Linked DNA regions of Homo sapiens: region 2 is linked to region 1. Evidence: fine-mapped QTL for protein levels in blood plasma. Region 1 holds a variant in brackets. A gene starts in the other region. All regions are shown on their forward strands. Region 1 has its middle 65 kb from the start of LINC02260. Region 2 holds the start of RETN (resistin).

The links. A credible set is the group of variants that fine-mapping cannot tell apart. PIP is the posterior inclusion probability: the model's chance that the variant is causal. Protein levels are from antibody-based Olink assays in UK Biobank. Linkage for the fine-mapping came from a reference panel and not from the study's own genotypes, which makes the PIPs less certain.
Region 2: it holds the start of RETN, and the variant in region 1 is the best candidate, but not a certain one, in a credible set for the plasma level of the RETN protein (UK Biobank, PIP 0.89).

The regions. Positions count from the first base shown.
Region 1 is chr4:54,540,978-54,543,905 of GRCh38, forward strand. No RefSeq gene overlaps it. Among named protein-coding and RNA genes, the nearest start is that of LINC02260, 65 kb to the right of the region's middle. RefSeq lists a cis regulatory region at 1,510-2,121. The variant A/T (reference allele first, on the strand shown) is at 1,731.
Region 2 is chr19:7,667,543-7,670,440 of GRCh38, forward strand. It overlaps RETN (resistin), which reads left to right and starts at 1,507. Exons shown (of 4, transcript NM_020415.4): 1 at 1,507-1,579; 2 at 1,775-1,902; 3 at 2,279-2,356; 4 at 2,677-2,898. The coding sequence starts at 1,785. The coding sequence ends at 2,807.

The DNA of each region.
Region 1 (2,928 bases):
GACATAAAGAGGCTTATGGTACAATGGGGGAGGTGGACATGTAAACAGATAAACCATTAGGATTTCTGATATCTAAGACTGCACAATTTATACATGTCTAAAATTAGGGAACCTGGCTGATTCATACGATTCATACCAGGAATAAGAGCCTGGGAACTTACTTCCTTAAAGACCAGTGCCCAGTGGGGGATGCTTAGAAGTGTCACTGTACAACATTTGCTGTCCAGAATCCTGACTTTTCAGAAAGAGACATGGACAATATTAACAGGGAAGAGGCCTTTGCTCTTCAAGCACCTTGATGGGTTTGCAACGGCACCTTTGAGAGGAGGCTGTATTTGTCTGCTTTATTTAAAGGGGGAAGTTTGAAGTAGAGGTGGTGGGGGCACTGGAGTAGGAAAGGAGTAAGAATGGCAGGATCCTGCATGGACAAAAGGCTGGAGAAAAATCTCCATGGAGGATGAATTTGTAAGTTATATCTGCTATGAGCAGTGCTGTTAAAATATTTACTCCGTAACACTCCCCACCCCCCAGATCCACTCATTATCTCGAACTGCCTGGGGTAAAAGGAGGAGATCAAGGAAGAATCTGGATCCTTTAAAAATGTCATGGGTCAAAACCGTAGGAGCTAGAGGCAAAGAAAACCATGAGAATATAAATCCATGACTATTCACACAACTACTGGGGAAGTCTTTGGATATTTTTCAGGCCACGGAATTAAGGATTCAGGGGAATTTCAGGCAGCTCCCAAGGAGTAGGGAGGCCCCAGATGCTATCTACATTGGAGCAATAATATCCGTGAAATTGTTGGTCATATTTTCAACTCAGGGTCCTGGTCCTGTTCAAATGCTTACAGCAGCAAGGGAGATAAAGGAGTAAAGCAGGCTGGATGTGAGACAGCAGGGAGTGGTAGGCGCTGCAGCAAGCTGTAGGGTGCAAGTCCTATCGGAAGGAGACAATTGCCTCCCAGCTCCAGCGGAGTGTTGCCTTGCAAGAATGCAAGCCCAGTGTTGCCAGATAGTCCACATTTTAAGAGAAGCCAGAAATGCAAATGTTTCAGAAAAACCTCGTTTTTGAAAAATGTTAACTAATTCAGAAAATATTTTCAAACTTCAAGGGTCAAACAAAAGATGTCTCGTGATGTATGTGGTTTCTAATTTAGAAGACAGAACAAATACAGGGATAAGATTCATTTTCAAAACAAGTAAAGAAATGAATGGCATTTAAGTGAGATATGATAGGAAAAGCTCTGATTCATGCATCTTAAATCCAGGGCTTTCGGCTCTGCTTGACTACTATTTGTCTGTATGTTTACAATGAAATAATTTATAATGTCGTGGCCTTCATCTCTTTATCCATAAAATGAAGGCATTAAATCTGACACTTTTTTTAGACTTGGAGATGTGATGATTGAGGGGGCAGAAAGAAAGTGTAAGCAGTGGAAAAATGAGCCCTGGGTGTGTTTCAAAATGTGTTGAATTCATTGACATTTATTATGTGTCTGCAAGGTACATTGCCTTGATCATGGAATTCTTGCTTACTGTGAAAAAGTAAGCATAAACTCAAAAAGCACCTTAATTATTTTGCCTACCTGAGAACAATGCTTTCAAAGAAGTGGGAGAAGAGCCTCCCCCAACTGGAAGCTGTGTTACTGACACTATCAGCAGGTGAGTTACAGAGTCTGTCAGCAACGATAAGAGCACTGGCGTATTTCCTATTCAGACTGACGCTGC[A/T]CTGAGACAGGAACCTAACTGATGTTTGTTCAATAATACCAAGATATGTCACAGAATCTGTGGGGGTGTCCGGTATCTTTTGTCAGCTTAGACTCAAACCCTGGAGAAAATATGTTGCAGACTGTTGCAGATGTTCTGAGATTAAATGATGTTTTCCTGAAAATGCATGAGGCATGGTCTACCGGTTTGCCTATTGGCAAACCGCCTCTTGCTGCCATCAAGACCCCACCCCCTCCCCCAGGCCATTCTGAAAAAGCAGAGCTGCCTCTAGGCCTTTCAGCTTTACCCTGAACCTCAAGACACTCCCACATTCTTCAGGGATTTGGGGATGGGTGGGTGGGTCTTATGATCCCAAAAGGATGGGATAGGGGAGAAGTGGGGTGGGTGGGAGGATGAGAGGTAGATGCAAAAAGATGGGTGGGGAAGAGAGGACCTAAACACAGTGCTGAGATCGAGTAATTTTAGGAGGCAGTACTGTTTGTGGAACATTTCATTCTTTATAGCTACTGTCACATTCTAGTCATTAGACTGCATTTACTTGTGGGTTGTAGAAATTACTTCCCATGGGAAACTAAAGCAATTCCTTCTTCAAAGGATGCTTTGTTTTCTAAGAGAAGAAAGTAAAGCCTATGACAGTGCAGCCAACTATGTAACCTACATTCCCTGCTAAGCCACTCTTGGTTGAAGTTCACTGTTTAGCATGACCACATAAAGAAGTAACCAAGAAATGATGATGATGACGATGATAATGATAATAATAGCTAGCATGTACTGAGCATCTTCTATATGCCAAGCCCTGAACTGAACCTTTATTTATGTGTTTTAATCCCTATAGAAACCCTGGCTATTATCATTAGCCCCATTTTACAGATGAGAAAACTGAGGCTTAAAGAAGCTATATGTGCTCACGATAACACAGCTAGGACTTAAACCTGATCTGCTCTGCTCTGAAGTCCATTCTTACAGGCACTGACCTCTGAATGTACCACATTTGGCTGAGAAGTCCTTTGTCATTTCTGACATAGAATCTCTCCTAGCAAAAACTTCAGGAATAAGGAGTGAATGAAACAGGAGTGCACAAAACAGAGAGTGGTATATCTGAAACTGGAGAAGTCCATGTGAATTTCAGTTTTAATCAATTACATCCATTAGGTGACAGCTGCTTCCCTTCTGCCCTCCAGGTGCCTGCACCTAGAGC
Region 2 (2,898 bases), not on the chromosome of region 1:
GAAACAAAGAAACAAACAAAAGCAATGGTTAAAATGGAACAAGATGGTGCATACCTGTAGCTTCAGCTACTGGGGAGTCCAAGGTGGGAGGATTACTTGAAGCCAGGAGTCTGACACTAGCTTGGGCAACATAGCAAGACCCCGTCTCAAAAAAAAAAAAAAAAAGGCCGGGCACGGTGGTTCACGCCTGTAATCCCAGCACTTTGGGAGGCCAAGGCGGGCAGATCACAAGGTCAGGGGATCGAGACCATCCTGGCTAACACGGTGAAACTCCATCTCTACTAAAAAAAAAAAAATACAAAAAATTAGCTGGGCGTGGTGGCAGGCGCCTGTAGTCCCAGCTACTTGGGAGGCTGAAGCAGGAGAATGGCGTGAACCCAGGAGGCGGAGCTTGTAGTGAGCCGAGATCGCGCCACTGCACTCCAGCCTGGGCGACAGAGCAAGATTCCGTCTCAAAAAAGAAAAAAGTAAGTTATAATGGTAAGTTGTATGTTATATGTATTTTACCACAAAAAGGCCCGTTGTACTGGAAACAAAGAACAAATAAAAATGTAATAACCATTCCAAGCTCATGGGTGGTCCAAGAAGAAACATGAGCTGGACCTTGGCCCATGAGCAATGGCTTTCCAACTTCTGTTGCAGGTGATGCCATTGATGGAATAAACCATGATTTTTCTTTCTTCTTTTTGAGATGGAGTCTTGCTATGGTGCCCAAGCTAGTCATCCAGGATGGAGTGCAGGGGCACGATCTCAGTGCACTGCAACCTCCACATCCCGGGTTCAAGTGATTCTCCCACCTCAGCCTCCCAAGTAGCTGGGATTACAGGCACACGCCACCACGCCCAGTTAATTTTTGTATGTCTAATGGAGACAGGGTTTCATCATGTTGGCCAGGTTGGTCTCAAGCTCCTGACCTCAAGTGATCCGCCCGCCTTGGCCTCCCAAAGTGCTGGGATTACAGGCGTGAGCCACCGGCCATAAACCATGATTTTATTTACCAGTTCTATTGCTCATGGGCATTTGGGTATGAATGTGGTATGTCATTCTCACCCAGAGACATAATTATTATTACTATTTTAGAGAAGTGGTCTTGCTCTGTTGCCCAGACTGGAGTGCAGTGCTGTGATCATAAGTCACTGTAGCTTCGAACTCCCGGGCTCAAGCAATTCTCTCACGTCAGCCTCCTTAGTAGCTGGGACTACAAGTGCTTGTCCGCACCATGCCTAGCAAGAGGCATTAATTTTGTCATGTTTGCATCAGCCACCCTTGCATGCAAAACTCTGCTTGTCTACCTGTTCCTCAGACCACAGCCCCTGGCATTATCCCTGGGGCACCACCTCCTGACCAGTCTCTGGACATGAAGACGGAGGCCCTGTTGGAAGTGGGAAGGCTCCCTTCCTCCTCCAGCCCTTACTGTCTGCTCAGGGGCTTCCTCTTGGCCCCGGATGTGGGACCGGAGGGTTGGGGGCCCAGGGACTTATTAGCCAAGCCAGGAAGCCCCACCCCAAGAGGCCTCAAAGAAAGAGCTGCGGTGCAGGAATTCGTGTGCCGGATTTGGTTAGCTGAGCCCACCGAGAGGGTAAGTGACAGCTGCTCCTGCGCTTGCCATGGCACCAGCGGGGAGGCTGGGGTCAAGGCTGAGCCTCCATCCCTGTCCCCCACATGGGGGGACAGGGGTCCAGGTCCAGGGGCAGATCCTACTCCCTCCATGGGCCGGATCTTCCCCACAGGGCAGGGCTGATCCAGCTGTGGGTCTCTTGGTTCCCTCTTTCAGCGCCTGCAGGATGAAAGCTCTCTGTCTCCTCCTCCTCCCTGTCCTGGGGCTGTTGGTGTCTAGCAAGACCCTGTGCTCCATGGAAGAAGCCATCAATGAGAGGATCCAGGAGGTCGCCGGCTCCCTAAGTGAGGACCCCCCACTTGGGCAAGCTCCCCAAGGGTCTCAGAGACCTCACTGATCCCTGGCACAGACCTGACTCCAACCCAGCCCCAGCGCTCACCAAATCTCATCCTCAAATCCAACCAGATCATAAATTCAACCCCAACTCCACTCCCAACCCCTCCGACTGTCCCCACCTTATCCACGGCTCCAAACCCAATCCCCGCTCTCACTCCAAACCTTCCCTTACTCCAAAACACCCAACTCAAGACAGGGTCCTGGAGGCCAGTGAGCTCCTATGCCCACAGGGACCTAGCTCCAAACCAACAGGGCTAGGGGAGGATGGGGGAGGGACCGTTTGGTCTCACAGCTCCCCCTGTCTCCTTTCCTCCTGCCCCCCAGTATTTAGGGCAATAAGCAGCATTGGCCTGGAGTGCCAGAGCGTCACCTCCAGGGGGGACCTGGCTACTTGCCCCCGAGGTGAGTGCAGGAGACTGTTGTCCAGGCGCCCATTTCTGTTCCAAGTCCCCTGGGAATGCCCCCTCCCCGCCACGTTCCCCGTGTCCAGCCTCTACTCCCCTAGGATCTTGGTCCTGACTCCCAGCCTTCTCCGCCCACCATCTGGACACTGGTGTCCACCCTCACTCCCTGCCTCCAGTGCCCATTCAGTGGTTGGAGCCTCCAGCCGTCCCCGTCCCCACCCCCGCCCCCCCAACCCCCCTCCGCGCTCCCCACCCCCCTCCCGCTCCCACCCTCAGCCTCCCAGCTCAGAGTCCACGCTCCTGTGTTCCGGGCTGCAGGCTTCGCCGTCACCGGCTGCACTTGTGGCTCCGCCTGTGGCTCGTGGGATGTGCGCGCCGAGACCACATGTCACTGCCAGTGCGCGGGCATGGACTGGACCGGAGCGCGCTGCTGTCGTGTGCAGCCCTGAGGTCGCGCGCAGCGCGTGCACAGCGCGGGCGGAGGCGGCTCCAGGTCCGGAGGGGTTGCGGGGGAGCTGGAAATAAACCTGGAGATGATGA